2 separate regions of the Homo sapiens genome follow, and region 1 is linked to region 2. A link means that fine-mapping ties the variant in region 2 to the expression of a gene that starts in the linked region. Tissue or cell type: whole blood. Region 2 holds a variant in brackets; the other region holds the start of a gene. All regions are shown on one strand. Distances are between the middles of the regions. Region 1 holds the start of STEAP4 (STEAP4 metalloreductase). Region 2 overlaps STEAP4 (STEAP4 metalloreductase).

Evidence for each region. PIP is the estimated chance that this variant, and not a neighbour inherited with it, causes the effect.
Region 1: STEAP4 starts here. The variant in region 2 is fine-mapped to the expression of STEAP4 in whole blood (INTERVAL, PIP above 0.99).

Annotation. Positions count from the first base shown.
Region 1 is chr7:88,302,107-88,313,568 of GRCh38, reverse strand. It overlaps STEAP4 (STEAP4 metalloreductase), which reads left to right and starts at 6,675. Exons shown (of 5, transcript NM_024636.4): 1 at 6,675-6,777. All of the region lies in intron 1 of LOC124901692 (a long non-coding RNA gene), which reads right to left.
Region 2 is chr7:88,282,674-88,294,093 of GRCh38, reverse strand. It overlaps STEAP4 (STEAP4 metalloreductase), which reads left to right. Exons shown (of 5, transcript NM_024636.4): 2 at 9,823-10,280; 3 at 10,926-11,420. The coding sequence starts at 9,825. It overlaps LOC124901692 (a long non-coding RNA gene), which reads right to left and starts at 2,607. Exons shown (of 2, transcript XR_007060420.1): 1 at 1,784-2,607. The variant C/T (reference allele first, on the strand shown) is at 8,183.

The sequences.
Region 1 (11,462 bases), 19 kb before region 2:
CTTGACCACTCTATTGGAAATGATCTCTAAGTTACAGTGTTAAGTGAAAAGAAGGAAGGTGTAGAAGAATGTGACTAGTAGGCTTCCACTTATATTTTTGTTGCTGTTGTTGTTTTTGAGACAGGGTCTTGCTCTGTCACCCAGGCTTGAGTGCAGTGGCACGAATATGGCTCACTGCAGCCTCGACCTCCCAGACTCAAGTGATTCTCCCACCTCATCCTCCTGAGTAACTGGGACTACAGGCACGTGCCATCACACCTGGCTAGTTTTTTTGTTTTTTGTAGAGACAGGGTCTCACCATGTTGCCCAGGCTTTTCTCGAACTCCTGGGCTAAAGCGATTGGCTCACCTTGGCCTCCCAGAGTGCTAGGATTACAGACATGAGCCACCTTGCCTGGCCACCATTTGTAATTTTTAAGAACAAATATATATGCTTTTATATGCATAGTCTGTCTATGAAAGGAGCCCAATAAATCATCAACGTGGTTGCCTCCAGACAAGGGAGCTCAATGTCTGCAGAAAACAGCTTTTCAACATACCCCATTTATATCTTGAATTTTGCATTAATTGTTTAAATATTTTAGTTAATTATTTAAACTAAAGTGTTATATAATGTAAAACAATCTACAGTAACTAAATAAATTGTTTAGCAAACACTCTGTGAACATAAATCATCTGTATTTGGTACTACAGAATCATCTATAGTTAATACTACCAGTATAAAAATAATATATATAATTATCTTTAAAGAAACCCCAAAAAAGAAAATAACTTTTAGCAAGTAATTGATCTTTACAGTTAGAAAATGGAGAAAAAAAAATAGCCTCATATTTTCAGTATTCTTCTCTTTTGCTTTTCCTCCTGTGATTGGTTTTATACTATTTTCCCTGCTAACTCTATTTGAAAGTGAACAGGACCTCATTCACTCTAATATTTTTAAATTTATTTTTGTCTCCTCTTTAGCATGTGAAAAATCTAACTAACCTTCCTTTACTGGCACTAGGCACAAATTGCCTGGACTGGAATTGCTGTTGCCAATAATACTTCCAGTACTAACAGTAACTACCAATCAACTATTGATTCATAGCTCTGCTAGCAGCTTCATATATCATGGCGTGTACCAGCAGGCTGGGGTGAAAGCAGATGACACATCTTCAGTTTTTGAATTACAGAAAGAACATCTCTATTAATGCCAGCTGCATTTATCAAAAAATTAACTCAAATATTTCTCCATCTCTTCAAATTATTTTGCACATCTTGTTCTTTGGTAACATCGTATTTAAGTGACCTCTTCTGAGGTCAGCAGATGTGGTCTTGGGCCGCCTCCAGATTCCTATTGGTGATAGTCAGTCCATAGCCCTGCCAGTGCCTTAGAAGCTTCCAAAATTAACACAGACCTTGTGACCCAGGGAATCAGAGACCCAGATAAAGAGGAAAGGGTTTCCTTGCCTATTTTCAATTCCCAGAAGTAGCTGCAACTGTCTGTCACTTCTAGGCTTTGTCAGTGATGTTTTAAAATATTATTATTCACTTATCCCACATACTCAACTCTTCTCTTCAACCTCCTCTTGAACCTAAAGTCAAGTTCTTTAGGTCTTATTTTTAAGTTCTTTATTGTCATTCCTGACATTATCCCTAGTCCAGACTCCAATACTGTCAGTGTCTGACGTATTTTCCCATCAGTACTTTTTTTGGGTGCAGGTGGGCAGTAAAATGTTGTTTGGTTTTGCTTCCTGGTCTGTGTTGGCAGGAGTCCTAGAAATTGGTTAAAACCAGGTCAATGGCCTGGCTTCTTCACTATACCCTTTGCAGTTTCAGGAAAAAGGAGGAGAAGGATTCTATCTGTCCACCCCCACTAAAATAGGAAAGAAGTAGAAAAAAAGTTTTCTGAGACAGGAAAATGATTTCTGAATATACCAGGAAGTAGCTGAAAAACTTCAGTCACAGAAATTGATTATTTATCCAAGTCCCAAAGCTACTACAAGAAAACTCAGAAAGGCCTTTGTTTTGCTTTTTTTAACAACACATGCCTTCCTCATTCTGACCACATGTTGTGATGAAGCCACCTCAGTAGGCATTACAGTCACAGAAGTCTGACTGAGCAGGTGCCTTTCTCATCCTACCCAATCCCATTTTATACAAATAACAGACATTCAATTACTGACTCATGTCACTAAAAAGCCCAGAGTATACAGCTTTCTTCAGATATGGCACTCTAACAATTGCAGAAATCTGTCTCTTCTCATCTCTTTGCTCTCTTTTCCCCTGAAGTGGCCTCTTTCTCAGGCTGACTTTCTCCTCACAGTGACCCAGGCTTGCTTTTTAGCAGTCCGACAACCCTCTGTAAAGAGTGTGCTGCTTCCCAGGTTGTTCCAGGAAAGATTCCTATTGGCCCAACTCAGGTCACATGCCATCATTGGACCAATCACTGTGGACAAGGCTTTGTGCTTTGAATGGCCAGGTCTAAGTCAGGTGCCTGATCCTGGAACCCCAGTGCCATTGGTTCAACTTGAACCACGTGGATCAAGATTGTGCAAGGGCGTTTATCAAACGAAAATGAAGATATAATTAGCAAAGAGAAATGGATGCTGCAGGACCAGGACTAGAGCAGGCAAGGAAGGCACCAAAGGAAAAACATTTAAGAAGTCATTTATTTTCAGGTTCGTGCAGACTGGGTTTTGAGTGAGCACCTCCACAGATTTGGTGTCCTAGCCTCCTCATTCACCTCACTTAGTCCTGGTCCTGGATGCTAGGTAAGCAAAAGACAAAATATTCCTTACACCAATATTCAAATATATCTCCCAGAGCGCCTGAAATCCCTGCCATAGAGATTCATTTCTGGGGGTTAGACAGAGACATCTCTAGGAGTCCTTCAAAAAAAATTTTTTTTTCAAAAACAGCTAGAGGGCAAATCTTTAAGTCAATAAAAGATTCGCATACACATGCTAATTATAGACTATCAAGTCAGTCACCTCCTGGTCCAGCACGTGTTGAAAGCTCCACCCCACCCCAATAAGAAGGTGTGGAACACTGTAAGGAGAGGACTTGCGGAAGAGGGATAAATGCCCAAGACACAAGATAGTGCAGAGGGGAGCCCCAGAAAAGGAGAAAAATGGCATTGAAAGGGAGATACAAAATGTTAAGGGTAACTTTTTTTCAATCACTTAATAACATTTAATGAACACTGGCTCTAGGCCTACTTCATCAGTTTGCCTAAATTCTACCATTTGGGGCCTTTGACATAGTAGGATGAGGAGAGAGGAAGTAGCAGGAAAGACTCAGGGGCACAGTAAATGTGGAAATCCCTAAATAAGAACAATTTGGTGGTGCACAACATCTGGGAAGGTTTATCTGGAGCTCTGAGTATAAAACTACAGGAAGAAAGATGAATCCTGCCCACAGGAAGTCCTTGGGTACTCAGGTTGCTGGCATCTTTGGGAAGCTTAATTTTCCCCTATGGCAAGGGTTTACGGAAAGACTAGGAGAGTTATGAACTGTGTGTCCCTCCTAGGCCCAAGGGGAAAATCAATCTTTAAACCACAAGATAAATACGTCAAATGCCTCTTAAGTTTTGCACTAATAAAGGCATTTTTTTTCCATCCTTCATATCCCAGTAATTTAATCTTCCTTTTCTAGGACTCCAGTTGCCTTTGGCAAAGAAAAGAACTTGCATAACTGAAATATATCTGCCTCTCATAAAAATCACATTTCAAAATTTTTTATCTACCTAATAATAATAAGTTTATAAAGCAATGATTCTGTTATTACTCAGAGGATGCATTCGAGAATATGGTTGTCCATTATGTCAACTCATAATGGATCCAAACACCACCTAGAAACCAGAGTGACCTGGTCCATAGACCCCAGCTTCTGCTTCTAAATGGCATGCATCGATATAGCTACTCTCTTAACCAGATGTCAGTAAACCTTGGAATTTTATAACTCACTCGTCTGTTTATCCAGCAGCCTTCTGCATATAAAATAGCTTCCACAGGATATGTCTACATGGAGAGAATGTGATGGCCATAATGTCTGGTGCCCTTAGCAACTGTATTTTTACAATAACTATTTGCTTTATATTCCATTAACAACTAACAAGTCACCATTTTGGTTGTTTCAGGCTCAGTGTGCTTATCAAGTTTCTGTGCCCATCAAGGCTTAAAACCAAATGGTAGACAAAGGGCAAGTCTCCAAAACTGTGTTGACCATCTATGAAGACTCTTAGGGACACGCAGCGGACCTTCTTCCATGGGTGCACACCCCTCTCTTGCCTATTAGTCTGCAAACTGGGAAAATCAGATGCTATAAAATCAATGAATATTTTAAGTTCTTCCCTGGCCAAAGAATACTATCGGATGAATTTTTTGCAAAATATAATAATTGGCAGTAGATTTATTAATTAATGAGTGCAATAAATATTCAGTACCAATTACACTCACGCACCACCTAACAATGTTTCGGTCAATGATGCACTGCATATATAATAACGGTCTCATAAAATTATAATGGAGCTGAAAAATTCCTCTTGCCTAGGGACACTGTAGCTGTCATAACATCACAGAGCAATACATTACTCACATTTGTGGTGATGCTGGTGTAAAGAAACCTACTATGCTGCCAGTCATATAGAAGTATAGCATGTACAATTATGTACAGTATATAATACTTGATAATGATAATAAATAGCTATGTTACTGGCTTATGTATTTATTATATGTACCTTTTAAATTATTTTTGAGTGTACTCCTTCTACTTGTATTTTTTAAAAAGTTAACTGTAAAACAGCCTCAGGAAGGTCTTTCAGCAGATATTCCAGAAAAAGGCATTGCTACCACAGAAGACAGCTCCATGCATGTTACTGCCCCTGAGGACCTTTCAGTAACAAAAGACATACAGGTGGAAGACAGTGATATCACATATCTTGATTCTGTGTAGGTCTATGCTAATATGTGTGTTTGTGTCTTCATTTTTAGCAAAAAAATTAAAACTTTTAAAAACGGGACAAAAGCTTATCGAATAAGGATATAAAGACAAAAACTATTTGTACACACTGTACAATATGTGTTTTAAGCTGCGTTATTACAAAACTCAAAAAGTTTTTTAAAACTTAGAAGTTTAAAAAGTAAAAATGTTACAGAAAGCTAAGGGTAATTTACTATTGAAGGAAGAAAAATATTTCTTATAATAGCATAGCCTAAATGTAGTGTTTATAAAGTCTACAGTAGTGTATAGTAATATCCTAGGCCTTCACACTCTCTCACTTACTCACCCAGAGCAACTTCCAGTCCTGTAAGCTCCATTCATGGTAAGTGTTCCATACAGGTATACCATTTTTTATCTTTTATACCACATTTTTACTATACCTTTTCTATGCTTAGATACACAAATACTTACCATTGTGTTACAACTGACTACAGTATTCAGAAAAGTAGCATACTGAACAGGTTTGTAGACTAGGAGCAATCGGCTATATACCATCTAGCCTAGGCCTGTAGTAGGTGATACCATCTAGGTTTGTGTAAGTGCACTCTATGATGTTCACACAATGACGAAATTGCTTGATGAGACATTCCTCAGAATATATTTAATAAATTGCTTAATGAGGCATTCCTCAGAATAAATCCCCATTGTTAAGTAATGCATTTTGCTAGGTGTTATGGAAAATTCCAGACTGAAAAAACTAGGGTGTCATCCCTCGAAGACTGCAGTCCAGGACAAGACACACACACATGATAATAACTCTTTTGAAAGGCAAATTGTCTTAATTGCTGTGCTAAAAGTATAAACTACTGTATAGAGAAAGAAAATATTAATTGCAACTAATGGCTAAGAAAAGACCTCTTGAAAGACATGGGGTCTGACCAACCCCACAAGAAGCTATGAGGAGAGTTGCAATCCAGACAAAGGGAAGGTTGACTCAACAACCCCTTTCCATGGGAGGAACAGGCCTCCCATGTGGCCGGGCCTCTGGAGCTTGGCAAGCGTATGCTGTGGAATTTAAGACCCATGGCTGAGTGGAGATCATTGGGAAGACTCTGGGATTTAGATTACAGAGTTTGGGAGTGTATGGATGCTTTGCCCCATAGTTTATCAGGATTATTTCAATCTTAAACAACCAGGGCTGTGGTTTTTGACCTTCTCTGTAGAAAGACACATTTGCATGTATATCATAAGGTATCCCGATCCCTCTTTCATTTGTTTTATTTCTTTAATCTACCTAAATTAAGACCTGAAAACTCAAGATCTTCCAAGTTATGAGCCCCATAAGAACCCATGGCTTCCAGGCGGAGGGGAAAGATACCACCTTTTCTATAAACTGAGACAAGATGGCAAAAGAATTGCCTAGAAGCCTAGTCCAGGTGCTGTTTTCTCAGCTACTCAAAGAGATCCTTCTTGCTCCTTTAGGAAAGGGGGATTCCTAGACCTCTCCAAACCTCAATCACCCTGGGATGCACAGATGCCAAGGGCTCGGGTGTAACCCTTAAAATCCCCGCTTCCCGGGGGTCAGCGGCACCATCAGCAGCACCGCAGTATAGAAGTTCCGGTCCTTCCAGCTGCTGGGATTCTCAGCTTGAACTCTTCCAGGAAACAAGTTCTTTTCCGCTTCTCTTGCGAAATCCAGCAGACCGTCCCGCCCTTCTCTGGCTTCTTATAGCAGCGAGAGCCACAAGCCACAGCGCTGAGCTGCAGGCGCGGCGAAACTTCCCTCTACCCGCCCGGCCCGCGGCGCGCACCGTTGGCGCTGGACGCTTCCTCCTTGGAAGCGCCTCTCCCTCAGGTGGGTCACTTTTCGCCACAAGGCTCCCGTCCCTTATCTGCTTCAGCTCACCTCCAGTCCCTGCTGCTAGGACCCCACTCCCCAGCCCATCGCACTGAAGAACAGGTGCTTGCAAACTCCCCGCCGCGCCCCGGCATCACTTTAGAGGAAAGTCACCTGAGGCTGCTCCGCGATTCAGCAAGCTTCTAACTTCCTGGAGTTTAAGGCTCATCCCTACCCCAGGGTGCAGACAAGCCCAAAGGGGGAAAATTAAGGGGTTAGATTCTTCTCTGCATCTTACTTCTGGATTGGCGCACTCTTGGGGCGCCCATCAAAAAGTAGGCTGGAAGAATGTGGCTTTAGCAGTCAGTCTCCAAGGTCTCAGATCCGAGGCTGCTTCTTGACCAGGCACTAAAAATTTGTCCTGATACCTGCAACCACTTCCATTTTTTTATCTTGATTTAAATTTCCTCTTGCAATTTAAAGGTTATTTTTCTGGAGGAAGATTGTTCAGAATATAATTTATTGTGAAGAGTAAATAAAGCCTCAGTTCCGTTTGTTTGTCCAGAGACAGAATTTTATTATTCTTTTTCCCACCTCTAGATGGTAATTTAGGAACTTTCTTTAAAAGATTGGTGTACTGAGGCTGGGTACGGTGGCTCAAGCCTGTTATCCCAACACTTTGGGAGGCCAAGGCCGATGGATCACTTGAGGTCAGGAGTTCGAGACCAGCCTGGCCAACATAGTGCAACCCAGTCTCTACTAAAAATACAAAAATTAGCCAGGCGTGGTGGCAGGTGCCTGTAATCCCAGCTACACAGGAGGCTGAGACAGGAAAATCACTTGAACCTGGGAGGTGGAGGTTGCAGTGAGCTGAGAAAGTGAATTGGATAGAGAATGGGGGAGGGGAGGAAGAATACTATTCCTAGTTCTATAATAACTAGAACCTCATTATCTCAGCCTCAGTTTCCACAGATGTAAAATAAAAGGCTGGCTACTGGGCCAGATGATCCAGAAAGTTCAACTCTAACAAGGTGAAAAGCCGTGACTAAAGATGCCTGCAAGTTTGAAATACATAGAAAATCTCCTTAATGCTACAACTATAATTCAGTGGTTACTTTTTTCATAATAATGCATGTTCCATTTTTATAAGGAAACTCTCCAGTTGTCGGGGGAAGAGTCTCTTCCCACAGGAGCATCTTAAAGTTCTGCCACATTTATCATTCAGAGAATACTCTCAGCTTTCAAAACCATTCTTCAGCCTTGCTATGTGAGAATGTCCTATTCCCTACAAATGGCAGTCATATAAATGTCACTCACATGAGAGAACATTTTTTTTTTCTGATACAGTAGGTATAATTTTGTAAAATGGCACATTTATTTGAAGCAGTAACTTTTCTGAGATATGGCCTTTTGCAAGGTCCCAAGTTTTTCAGAATGCTGTGATTTAGCACAATATGAGATTTGACCTGCATGTATTCTACCTGCATGGCAAACACTGCCAACCCAGAAAACAGGATGAGACACTTCCTATTTATCAGGCTCCAAGGCTGTAAAGTAAATGGTACATGTGTACAGAGAAATTGGGTCATAGCAGTTTTTCTATTTGGTAACGTTTACAGTTCCACTGAGGTTCACGTTGTTCACATTGTTGAAGTTCACATTGTTCAGAAACCAGGTGTACAAGGCCTGGCCCCTAGCTGAAGAACAATTTCCAGACTTCTGCCTTACTAAAGCTCGCTAACTGTTGTTTAGAAGGAACTAAACAGACTTTTTAAGATTGTTAATAAATTAAAAACCCCAGGCCTTGCACTATGTGTGAACAATTTTAAGAAAAATAAGGTCATTTGTTATGGAATTTTATATTCAAAGAAACTTGGAGTGGTCACTCTGCATTACTTTGTCTCTTGAAGGACTTCCCCTGAATCACCCTACTATTATTAATACTGTTATTAAAAGGATATAAATTCTCCTTTTAAAGGCTGGGTAGCTGATTCTGTTGTCACTCTCAGGAACACATTCCACTGTTTTAGGATCCTTACCACCTAGTTCTCTTCATAATTAATTTAGACGTGTTTATCAAATGCTACTTAAAAATCATTTTTTTTTTGGAAAATCTTAGGAAATCTGATAAGTTGCTAGCAAACACACACACACACACACACACACACAACAGCAGCAACACAGTAGTCCTTCAAAACCTGAAGATTGGGCACTTTGCTAGGGCACTTTGTAGCTAGTTTTTTCTGGGTTGTCCTCTGAGAAGGTAATTTGCTAGTGCCTGCAGCTACATCTACCAATAATTCTTACTATAACAATGCAGAGTAGGATGGGGATAGTGAAGTTTTCTGGGTGGGATTTTGTTTGTTTGTTTGTTTTTTTGTTGTAAGTTTATGCCAGATAATAATAATGTAAGGTTTACAGAGATAAGATCTCTGAAGTTACCTGTCTCTGTTCTTCACAGATTTTTTTTTATTATTATACTTTAAGTTTTAGGGTACATGTGCACAATGTGCAGGTTAGTTACATATGTATACATGTGCCATGCTGGTGCGCTGCACCCACTAACTCGTCATCTAGCATTAGGTATATCTCCCAATGCTATCCCTCCCCACTCCCCCCATCCCACAACAGTCCCCAGAGTGTGATGTTCCCCTTCCTGAGTCCACGTGTTCTCATTGTTCAGTTCCCACCTATGAGTGAGAATATGCGGTGTTTGGTTTTTTGTTCTTGCGATAGTTTACTGAGAATGATGATTTCCAATTTCATCCATGTCCCTACAAAGGACATGAAAAGAGACTGGTTTACTAATTAGGAAAACTTCCTGAACAGTTCTATATACTGTGTTAACTCCACTCAAGATATTTCTGATGACTTTTAGGTCATTTCCAAAGTGATTTGAATTAGTATTTGTCCTTTTGTTAAGAAGAAATCAGTCCTGGAAGGAATCAAACTAAATAAATAACTAAAGAATAATTAATGCATAAAACAAGGCATGCTAAGAAAACATTCTTGGCCTACATAGATTAACAATTTGTTCTTCCCAAATCATTAAGGAATAGAAAACAATGAATCCTTGTGCTGTTTAAAGATCCTCTTTCAGAAACATATCATTGCAAAAGAACACACTATTCTACTAAAGGAAGTATATACACTCTAATTAACTAGGCAGGACATTGACATCCCAATCTAAATTCTTCTCCACAATGTTCTGTAAGAGTTTATTCAGCCATGTGTGGAGAGGTTTACTGTACTGTACTTTGGCAGTCACATATTTCTGAAAAGCTATTTTGGGAGGACTTTTTTTTTTTTTTTTTGAGACTGAGTCTCGCTCTGTCACCCAGGCTGGAGTGCAGTGGCAGGATCTTGCCTCACTGCAACCTCTGCTCCTTGGGTTCAAGCAGTTCTCCTGCCTCAGCCTCCTGAGTAGCTGGGATTATAAGTGCCCACCACAATGCCCAGCTAATTTTTTTATGTTTAGTAGAGAAGGGGTTTCGCCGTGTTGGCCAGGCTTGTCTGGAACTCCGGTCCTCAGGTGATCCATCCGCCTTGGCCTACCAAAGTGCTAGGACTACAGGTGTGAGCCACCGCGCCCGGTTGGAGTTTTTTTTTTTTTTTTTTTTTTTTTAATGCAGATTATATGATCAATCCTAACATCAGGATAAAGTTCCCTTTTCATCTTAAAAGGAAGGAAAATGTTTGCAAAGAGTAATTTTGAAAAGTTAGGAACTATAATTCTAAATAAAAAGAAGGCTAAAAGAAAATAAAACTATATAGCACAGCTCTTGGAAGATTATTAGTAGAATACAAGCTAGTCAGTTTGGCCTCAGCACCCAATTTTTTTTTTTTTTTTTTTTTTTTGAGACAGTCTCACTCCTTCACTCAGGCTGGAGTACAGTAGCGCGATGTCAGCTCACTGCAACCTCCATCTCCTGGGCTCAAGCAATTCTCCTGCCTCAGCCTCCTGAGTAGCTAGAATTAAAGGCATGCACCACCAAGCCTACCTAATTTTTGCATTTTTAGTAGAGATGGGGTTTCGCCATTTTTGCCAGGCTGGTCTTCAACTCCTGACCTCAAGTGATCTGCCTGTCTTGGCCTCCCGAAGTGCTGGGATTACAGGCGTGAGTGACCGCACCTGGCCAGCACCCAATATTAAGGAAAAAAAAATGCATTAAGAACAGAGCCAGGGCTCAGAGAGCTGATGGCACCAGCACTGTGGAGCGTAGAAATAGGAAGGGATAATTAATGGTCATCGCTGATTGTTCATCTTTCATCTATACCTGCTCTTTTTACAGGGTGTGAAAACAGTTTTGAGCTCAAGTTAAATTGTGGCTGCAAAACTTTTGCACAGACTTTGGAAAACTTACTTGTTCCGCTTCCTGGCAGATTCAAGTCCCTCCTAGCCTGTAGGCGCCCATCCTCTCTACACATTCGTCTGCTCTGGCCATTACACTATGCATTGCAACAATTTGATTATATGCTTCATCTTTCCCAAGACCAAAGCTCCTTGAGGACAGGGTCCATCTCGTTTCTCACTTTATCCCTCTTAGTGTGGCTATTCAATAAATCTCTGTTGAAAGCAAGGCATTGCTAATAACACTGATTTTTATTTTTGGAAGATACTTACCTTATGGACATAGTACATAATGAGTATGGATGCTGCCTGCACAATATTAGTTAACAGGGTCAAAGTGCAGTGGCAAAGT
Region 2 (11,420 bases):
CTTTTGTATGAATTAATTTTTTAGCACAGTCATCTATATTTTTCTCCTAAAACATGAACTGCTTTGCATTGAAGTTTTGGAATATTTTTAAGCATTTTTTTTAATTTAAGCATTTAAAGTACATTTTTTAAAATTTATGACAAGATTATTCTAAAATTTATAGGACTGAAAAGGAACTAGAGTAGCTATAATAGTTTTCAAAAAAAAACATAGTGGGAAGAATCACTGTACCCAATTTTAAGACTTATTATAAAGCTACAGCCATCAACATTGTTGGTATTGGCAGAGGGATAGACACATAGATCAATGGAACAGAATAGAGAATGCAGAAATAGACCCACACCTCTATGTATAACTGATGTTTGACAAAAATGTGAAAGCAATTCAGCAAAAAATAAGGATAGTCTTTTCAACAAATGGTAGAAGAGTAGTTATGTATTCATAGGTCAAAAAATAAACCTTGTCCTAAACCTTACACTATGTATGAAAATTACTTAAAATGGATCATAGACTTATAAGTAAAACTTTTAGAAGAAAACATTCAGGACCTAGGGCTTTGTGAAGAGTTTTTGGGTAAGATACTGAAAGCGCAATCCATGAAAGAAAAAAAATTAAATAAATTGGACATCATCAAATTAAAAAATGTTTGTTTTATGACTTCGGATGTGTTAAGACATGAAAAAAACAAGCTATAGGCTGGCAGAAAATGCTTGCAAATCACATATCTGACAAAAGACTCATATGTAGAATATATAAAGATTGTCAAACTCAACAGTAAATAAACCCAAACAGTCCAATTAGAAAATAAGCAAAATACATGAAGAGACTTCTCACCAAAGAGGACACACAGAGAGCAAATAAACACATTAAGAGATATGCAACATAATTAACCATTAAACAAATGCAAATTTAAACCACAATGAAATATCAGAATGGCTAAAATAAAAAATCATGACTCATAAATACCTGGTAAGGGGTAAATTAGTACACATTCGAAGTCAGTATAGCCAAGTCTTAGAATGCTAAACAAACACCATATGACCCAGAATTTGTATCCCGGGGTCTTTATCGCAGAGAAATGAAAACTTATTTTCACACAAAAACCTGTAGGTGAATACTCATAGAAGCTTTATTTGTAATAGCCAAAACTGGAAACAACCAAAATGTCCTACCTTAGATGAAGAGTTAAACTTTAGTATATCTATACTGTAGAATACCGCTCGGCAATAAAATGGAAGAATTATTGATGGATCTTAAGTATGTTATGCTGAGTGAAAAAATGCTAGTCTCAAAAGGCTTGCATTACTGTGTGATTTTATTCATTCTCAAAATGACCAAATTGTAGTGATAAAGAACAGATTAATGACCTCCACGGGTTAGGGTTGGTAGTTCAGAGGGCAGCATGAGGGATGGTCTAGTCTCTAACCTGATTGAAGTGATGGGTACATGAGCATACACATGAGATAAAATGACATGGAAATATACATGCATATGGCTCCAATGTCAATGTCCTGGTTTGGATATTGTACTCTAGTGGCATAAAACTGGAGGAAACTGGGTGAAAGATGCACAGGGACCTCCTGTACTATCTTTACAACTTCCTTGGAATCTATAATTATATCAAACAAAAGTTTGATTGATTTATTTTTTTAATAAGAATTGACTTGTTAAGTATAAGAACTGAAAATAGATTATTTTTGTAATTCCCTTTGGACCTTTTTATGTTTCTACTATGCTGGAATCCTCAAAAGCTGGAAGGGCCTGAGCCTCTCAGACCTCTTACCTCTGAGAGGTGAGAGAAGTAAAATTCACCAGCCAGGCTGGCTCTAACATCCTCATGGGAAGCCTAGTTGGAAACATCCCAGAAGAATACTGCCTCAGGTTTCCAAGGCCTGTGGGGTGAGATCTGCAAAGAGAGGGATGATAAGCAGGACTCCTCCTGACCCACACTTGGTCCCTCATATGACACACACACTCACATACACACACACACACGCGCGCGCACACACACACATGGTTTCTCAGAGTCAGCTGCTACCATGGCCTTCATTGTCATCTTTGCCACCTTTGTATCTGCGTCACTGATTGCTAATTCCTAATCTATGTAAACACCCTTGTGAGATCACTTTACGCATCTTGGCTGTCATCTCTGGGAAATGATTCCATAAGAGGCAAAACCAGTCCTGCAGATTTTCCAAACCCAGAAATATTTCTGTTGTATTTCCTGTTACATAACTGAGGTTTGTGGAGAGCCCATGAGACTGAAGGAAGGAGAGGAAACCCCTATGTTGTGTTTTAACTATTTTAACCCACGTTTCCCTTAATAACTCTTCTTCCTGTTTACTACCTTTTTTATTATTTTCTTTATTATTTCTATCCTGGATATAAGAGTAAAGTAGGACTAGAAAACTTTTTTAAGTCTTTGAACAAGGAACCTCCATGAACGTATATTTACACACAGCTATTTTGAGTTTCAAGATGCCTGAAAAGGGTGTAGCAGCATTCTTTAGATAGTACCTAATGCAAAATGCACCCTCAACTTGATCTCCCTTGTGGTTGAGAGTGTGCATATATCTATTTCTTTTCTTTTTTTTTTTTTTTCTTTTTGAGATGGAGTCTTGCTCTGTTGCCCAGGCTGGAGTGCAGCAGTGCGATCTCGGCTCACTACAGCCTCCACCTCCCAGGTTCAAGCGATCTTTCCCCTTCAGCCTCTCCAATAGCTGGAATTACAAGTGTGTTCCACCACACCTGGCTAATTTTTTGTGTATTTTTAGTAGAGGCGGGGTGTCACCATGTTGGCCAAGCTGGTCTCGAGCTCCTGACCTCAAGTGATCCTCAAACGCCATTTTATATAGAGTTTTATTTATAAGAAATAAGTGGGACAAGTAGGAGATTCTTAAGAATCGTTGCACTCTAGTTCAGATATTTTTTATATATTTATAATAATCATAGTTATATAAGCATAATTAACCCTTAATTTGTAAAGTTTATATAAAGGCTACATTAATTAGATACTTGATTCAATAACTAATAGATTACCAATCTATTTAAAATACCCATTTTCTTAAACACTTACTAGGTCTCAAGAACTGTTTTGAGATGCAGGAATTCATCTAATTTTCACTGCCGGGCGAGGTGTGAGAGCCCTAGCATCTGAAAGTGGTCGACTTGCGAGTTGGTAAGAAGAATTTAATAACAACAGAATAGGTTTGAAAAAGGAAAGTTTTAGTAGAAAGAAAGAACACTGCAGAAGAGTGCAGCAGGGCGCCTTAGCAAGATAGAACTGAGTGGGCCATGGTGGATTCTCCTTGGGAGCATTTATGGACCTTAAGACAGAAGCTTGAGGGTAATTTGGACCATATTAGCCAGACAGGTCATGATAAATGATGACATTTATAGTCATTTTGGTGCCTTTGTGTCAGCAAGGGTTGCACAATGAGTTTCAGCATAGCGTTCTGGAGATGTATAGAAATTTTAGTTACTTAGAAATTTTTTTGAAAGAGGCCTGGAACCAGATGCCTATTTAGATACTAGAGAATTTTAAATACTTCTAAATTCCCTCGATACGGAGTTTTGCCTCTGATGGCCTAGTTGATGGTCACCAGGTGTTCTTTGCTCCCTTCATGATACTTCTAAATTCCTCAGATACGGAGTTTTTTGTCTCCAGTACCTGTTCATGGTCATTAGCTGATTTTTGCTGTCCTCACTCGCAGTATCTTTCAAGTAGGTACTAGCAATCCCTCATTTTACAGATGATGAAACTGAGACACAGAGTTTGAGTAACTTTCTCAAGGTGACATTGCTGGTAAGAGGCAAAGCAAAAAATAGGACCATGAAGTCAATATCTTCATTAAAAAATTTATGAAAGATTAGAATAAATGAATATAGTGACCAAATAGTCAAAATGGTCTGGAATCACTCTCTCTTTGCAATGATTAAGATAATCCAAATGAGAATATTTCAGTTAACAAAATCCATCTCATTACAGGATACTGGCAACTGCATCAAATCTACATTTTGCTTGCAAATGTTCATCCAGTATGAAAGAGAGAATAAAAATATTAGGATAAAATAATTTTTTTAAGTGAGGAGATAGGCAGTCACACATTCTTTTGTGACACAAACCAGTTCTACAGTAGAATAATGAAGGCATTGTTCAGCAGTTTGAAGGTTTGATTTATAAAACTAGGTGTTAACTGATTGGCAATCAACCAATAGAAGGTAAATTGCTAAACTAGTCTGCATGTGCAGATGCTAGTAAGAAATTTTCAAAGGCACAGCTGCACTTTTATACAAAGTTCCCTGATCATCTACAGGTACTTCCCCACATGTGGTCATGACCTTTGATGACACCCATTCAGGATATCAGTCGCCAGTTTGTTTATAAAATGATTCAGATGTACTTAATTAGATTATTCAGAGTTTCTGTGGGAGTGCAGGAATGTCCTGTATTTCTTGTCCCTTTCTCCCATAACTTCTACCTCCCTACAAAGGCCTAAATGCTCTGCTTTTGATGGAGGCGTGCAACTTCAGATAAGCTCCGGTAAGAATATAGGTGTTTTTGATAGGCTAAAATGGAAAGCACAAATTTCTGAAACCCCAGGAAAAAGGTGCAAACTCTACATACACTGTGCAATCTGCATGAAATCCACCATAGGAGAATTGAGTAGTGATTAAGTCTGGTTTGAAAATTCTGCATCAAATTCACAGAGTTTTACTTTCAACCCATTTGGGTGAAAGAAATAATGTCCTTACAACATCTCTTCCACTTCTTTCCTTCTTTCTTACTCTTCTCCATTGGTTACTCTTTAATCATTCAGCATCTTCCTTTTTATTTATCTCACACTGTGCCTGGGACACAGAGTAAACTTTTGTACTTCCAGCCCCTTCATCCCACCCTTTTAATATAGTTCAACGAATATTTATAAATTTCCTAGACTGTGGTAGTTAGTGCTTTTCTGAGCACTGAAGATACATCATTGAACAATAGACACACACAAACACACACACATACACACACACACACACACACGCGCATGCATGCACCAAAAAAAATAAAAGATTAACTGAAAGCTTAAACTACATATTGGAAAAGAAACATTTTTGAGAAAAATTCAATACTGAAAGAAAAGATATTCTTCAAAAGTATAAAAAACAACCTAGATTATTGCAGGAGATCATACAAACTGGTTTGTTTTTTATTTAAATTCTACAGCCACATGGTTCATAACAGTATTTCAGTTTAGTTTTAACTTGCATTTTTTTTTAGTTTTGGGTAATATTAAGAATATTTTACTGTGTTTAGAAGTCTTTTATATATTTCCTTAGGATAAACTATCAGCTCATATTCTTTGCCCAATTTTCTAATGGGCAATTGTTTTTTTCTCATTGATTTATATGAGTTGAAAAATATTTTTTCCAGTTCGTTGATTATCTTCATTATGACATTGCTTAGCGGTTTTGCATTGCAGAAGTTATTTATTTTTATGCAATCACATTTGTCCAACTATTTGTTAATGGTTTAATGATGTAGGAAGAGGACCTTCCCCTCTAAGATTATAAAAGAATGTTCCATGGTTTCTTCTAGTTCTGTTCTAGTTTCATTTTTCTAAAAATAAATCTTTAGCTGGGCACAGTGGCTCATGCCTGTAATCCCAGGACTTTGGGAGGCTGAGGTGGGCGGATCACCTGACATCAGGAGTTCGAGACCAGCCTGACCAACATGGAGAAACCCTGTCTCTACTAAAAATACAAAATTAGCCAGGCATGGTGGCACATGCCTATAATCCCAGCTACTCTGGAGGCTGAGGCAGGAGAATCACTTGAACCTGGGAGGCGGAGGTTGCAGTGAGCCAAGATCACAGCATTGCACTCCAGCCTGGGCAACGAGAACGAAACTCTGTCTCACAAAATAAATAAATAAAATAAATCTTTAATTTATTTTGAATTTACCTTGGGGTGGAGTATAAGGTATAAATTTATTTTTTTCTTTCAGGTAACTCTTGAGTTGCCCCAACGTTGAAACCACCTTTGCAAAAATTCTAACTGAAGAAATTATGACAGTGAAAGAGATCAGAACTAACTGACTCCATCTGGCTTCTAACCTTTAAGCTGTCCTTGTTCATTCCTGGTTGCAGGCAGAACTAACCTTGGGAAGGAATTTAGTTTATGGTTTGGCTCTGAAACAAAATTGATAATGTCCCTTTTCCCAAAAAGACCCACTTCTTGCCTGGGGACCAGTCTGCCTTTGTAGGACTAACAGATTAACTACAGGATTAGATATTACATTTTAGGGGTCATGCAGCCTCTGGCTACAAGAGTCTGACCTTCCCCAGATTGCTCCTATGGATAGCATTACTATTATAAAACCTAAGATCAGTGCTTGAGATATTTTGCAGACCCTGCACTGGATGGATCAGCTGACACCACCCAGATTGGTAATCTGGCTTAACCACTTCTGCGATCCCCTCTATAATTCTATCTCCAACCTGACCAATCAGCACTTCCCACTTTCGAGCTCCTATTTTAATTTAAATTATCTTTAAGAACTCTGATCTTCGTGCTCTGGGAAACTGATTTGTGTAATAATAATACTCGTGTCTCCCATACAGCCAGCTCTGCCTGAATTACTCCTTCTCCATTGCAATCCCCCTGTCATGATAAATTGGCTCTGTCTAGGCAGCAGGCAAGGTGAATCCATTGGGCAGTTACAAATTTGGGGGCTCGACCAGGATTGCCTTTGTTGTTACCTGCTCTGTAGCCCACCTCTGGTGATGGATCTGGAGGCCAACCCAAGTGGCCACCTAGTTCTCTTGGACTAGGGGCTGACTCTGGCACTCTCTGCCAGTGGGGTGCTGCTGACCCAATGTGCATGGATTCAATTGCAGTGGAGAAGTAATGCTAGGGAGATATCTCATAACTGTAGCCTCATCACTGGGTGTCTGTAGCTGTAGCCTCAATGCAAGGTGTCTGATTTGGTGAGTATTCCAGGCAGCTACCAACAGCCCCTTCCTTCTCCTGATTTATTGGCCTCTCTGGAGGTGCTGCTGTCTCTTAGTAACCTCCCAGGGTGTCTGTCTGTAGCCCTATCACAAGGTATCTGCCTGTAGCTCCATTACAAGGTGTCTGTAGCTGTAGCCCCATTACAGAGTGTCTGTCTGTAGCCCCATTAGGGGTTGTCTAATTGGATGGAGACTAAGGAACTTGTTTGGAGGACTACTCTTGGTTTGAGACTGGGTCTGGAATCTGTGTCTTGAAGGCCTTCTGTTCATCTTACATTGTTTGCGTGTGTGTGTGTGTGTGTGTGTGTGTGTGTGTGTGTGTGTGTGTTTATATGTATGGAGGGCCCTGAAGGAATTGCTCACAGCAGTTTTCTGGGGGCAGGGGACAGAGTCTCACTCTGTTGCCCAGGCTGGAGTGCAGTGGTGCAATCTCAGCTCACTACAATCTCCACCTCCCAAGTTCAAGCAATTATCATGCCTCAGCCTCAGAGTAGCTGGGACTATAGGCGTGCGCCTCCATGCCCAGCCCTGAGTTATCATTTTGGGTAAATGAATGACTTATGGTGACACGGGACTCTATTTTGTGATATCCAGTGTTTTAAATCTTTGATATTTGACAAACCTTCCAAGATCAAATTATAAGTTTAAAAAAAAAAATTAGATATCCTGAAGTTCAAAAAGATATATTAGGCTTATTTAATGTATTAAAATCATGCAGGAAACATTGTCAAATATAAAATGGTGTTTAACTTTCTTTGAGTTATACTCATATAAATATGTTATTAGTATGTGTTATAAAATTGTATAAGATTTCTATAATTCTAATATGCCTCAGTATATGTTATCAGTAATAATTATAATTGTTATGTTGAATTTTTGTGTGCCACAGAGGTAACAAATTTCCTTGTCAATTTCTTTGACTGCGGCTTCCCTAAAACATTTCTGTCATCTGCAGACAATTGTTGTCTTGATTTGGTCCTCTTTAGGAGATGGTTTTATAATCAGCTATAAAACTTTGACAGGTGCTCTTGAATGCAAGTTTCTGATAACCTTGGAGATTATGACATTAAAATAAAGGAAAAAACTTTCGGGACTCTCATAAAGAGCTGAAATGTTCTTTCATATGAAGAAATCAGCTCTGTCTAGGTAGCAGGCAAGGCAAACCTGTTGGGTCATTACAA[C/T]ATTAGCTATTAAATAATCTGTTTTCTCATTGACCTGAGATGCTATTTTTATCATATGTGTTTGGGTCCATTTCTGAATTTTTTTAAAACTTATTCATTAAAATTTTTCTACTTTTCTTTTTTCTTTTCTTTCTTTCTTTTTTTTTTTTTTTTTTGAGACAAAGTCTCTCTCTGTCGCCCAGGCTGGAGTGCTGTGGCCTCCTGAGTAGCTGAGATTACAGGCGCGTGTCAACACACCCAGCTAATTTTTGTATTTTTAGTAGAGATGGGATTTCACTATGTTGGCCAGGCTGGTTTCAAACTCCTGGCCTCAAGTGATCCACCTGCCTTGGCCTCCCAAAGTGCTGGGATTACAGGCATAAGCCACTGTGCCTGGCCAGAACTTTATCCATTTCTTTGATAGTACCACATTATTTAATTATTTTAGCTTTATAAAAATTTTAATATTTAATATGACTAGCATCCCATTTATTAACCTACTTTTCAGAATTTATAGAATTAGGGAAAACTGACGTTGTGTGAGCCTTGCCATCCAAGAACATGCTGTACATTTTCTTTTATATAAGTTCTCTTCTCCTGATTCTTAAGAGCATTTAAAATATTTTTCATACATATGTTGCACATATCTTGCTATCTTGTTACATATTGTCTTTATTTTGTTGCAGCTATAAGTAGGATCCTTTCATGTATTAAATCTTCTTACTGGTTTCTTTTTTAATATATGAAGAATATTTATTTTAATCGAGTTCCCAGCCTAGATGTTGAATTATTTTTGTATGTATGATACTTTTTTGGTTGATTTTCCCAGTTTTTAAAGTTTGATCTAGTTCGATCATCTGGAATCCCTTTTGAATTTCTGTACCTCTGATTTCTTTCTCTGATCTAGTTATGTTAGAGCTTTCAGAACAATAACTAAAGTGGTCATAGCAGATGTATTTGTCTGGTTCCTGACTTTGTTGGAAATGTTTCTACTAATGTTTTTAGGCATAATGCTGAATTTTAGGTTAAGATCAATAATTTTTATATGTTAAGGAAATATCTATGTATTTCTCTTTCACTATGAATCAAGAATAAATGTTGAATTTTAACAGATGTCCTTTTAACATACACAGATATGACAGACTTTTTCCTTAAATCTTTTAATATAAAATTAAATTTTAATCTTTTAAGTTATATTAATGAAGTTTCAAAAATTGAATTTATAGAACTAATCTTCACATTTGTAGAATAATCCCCATTTGATCAACATAAACCTTCTATTAACAAGCTGCTGGATTGTGTTTGCTAATGTTTTATTTAGTTTTTTTTGGTATCACTAAACAAGTGAATTTATCTATAATTTATTGGAGCATATTTTTTGTCAGATTTTGCCCTGTATCCTTTTATCAAACAGAAGCTTTTCACCAGTGATTTTGTTAAATAAGACACATATGAAAAGATATATGACAATTTTTACTCCTTCCAAATTTGGGGGGAAATATATATGACAATTTTTACTCCTTCCAAATTTGGGGGTAAATATAGTTAAGATAATTAGATTACAACAAGTCAATTACATTACTTCTTGAATATAGCTCTCTTTAATTTTCCAGGCACAGAGCATTTATATTTTGTTGGGCATTTGTGTTATTATTTTTCAGTTATGGAGAAAACTTGTATAGATGCACTTCCTCTTACTATGAATTCTTCAGAAAAGCAAGAGACTGTATGTATTTTTGGAACTGGTGATTTTGGAAGATCACTGGGATTGAAAATGCTCCAGTGTGGTTATTCTGTTGTTTTTGGAAGTCGAAACCCCCAGAAGACCACCCTACTGCCCAGTGGTGCAGAAGTCTTGAGCTATTCAGAAGCAGCCAAGAAGTCTGGCATCATAATCATAGCAATCCACAGAGAGCATTATGATTTTCTCACAGAATTAACTGAGGTTCTCAATGGAAAAATATTGGTAGACATCAGCAACAACCTCAAAATCAATCAATATCCAGAATCTAATGCAGAGTACCTTGCTCATTTGGTGCCAGGAGCCCACGTGGTAAAAGCATTTAACACCATCTCAGCCTGGGCTCTCCAGTCAGGAGCACTGGATGCAAGTCGGCAGGTAAGAATAAACAAATTTACACTCAATCTTTAAAACATGAATCATTAAATGTGCACTTGCCTCAAAGATTCCAAAATATAATTCCAAGATGAAATGCCCACTAAATATTACATTTTGCTAATATGTGCTGTGAATAATTTTCTTGAGCTTGACCAAATAAGGTGGTCAACTGTTATATCTCCCACTGTCTGCACCCTCAGATTTTAGTTTGATGGAACCCCATGGTGTCAGCCTCTGGAGGCTTCTTGTCAGTACTAGAAACTAATACTTGGTGAATATCCTTTTCTGCTTCCATTACCTTGTATGAAACTGGTTCCATTTATACACTGAGATTAGAAGCATTCATAAGTGATGCGGCACCACAAACACAGAAGATCAAACTACTCACAGTGTGGAGAACCATGTCTTTTATAAGTGTGATGTGCCTAAAACCATCATCAACTAAAAACCCTGGTACTTACCTATCTAAGACACCACATACAAGTTTAAAACATCTTGTTACATATGTTAATTCTACATCCTTATTTTAAAATCGGTTCACTGTTTTACGTCATCATTTGGCATGGTGCTGTTGTAGCCTTTCAAAATAATTATTAAATAAGGAAAAGGAGTAAATACAGAATTAATTAACTGTTTTTAAACTAGGTGTTTGTGTGTGGAAATGACAGCAAAGCCAAGCAAAGAGTGATGGATATTGTTCGTAATCTTGGACTTACTCCAATGGATCAAGGATCACTCATGGCAGCCAAAGAAATTGAAAAGTACCCCCTGCAGCTATTTCCAATGTGGAGGTTCCCCTTCTATTTGTCTGCTGTGCTGTGTGTCTTCTTGTTTTTCTATTGTGTTATAAGAGACGTAATCTACCCTTATGTTTATGAAAAGAAAGATAATACATTTCGTATGGCTATTTCCATTCCAAATCGTATCTTTCCAATAACAGCACTTACACTGCTTGCTTTGGTTTACCTCCCTGGTGTTATTGCTGCCATTCTACAACTGTACCGAGGCACAAAATACCGTCGATTCCCAGACTGGCTTGACCACTGGATGCTTTGCCGAAAGCAGCTTGGCTTGGTAGCTCTGGGATTTGCCTTCCTTCATGTCCTCTACACACTTGTGATTCCTATTCGATATTATGTA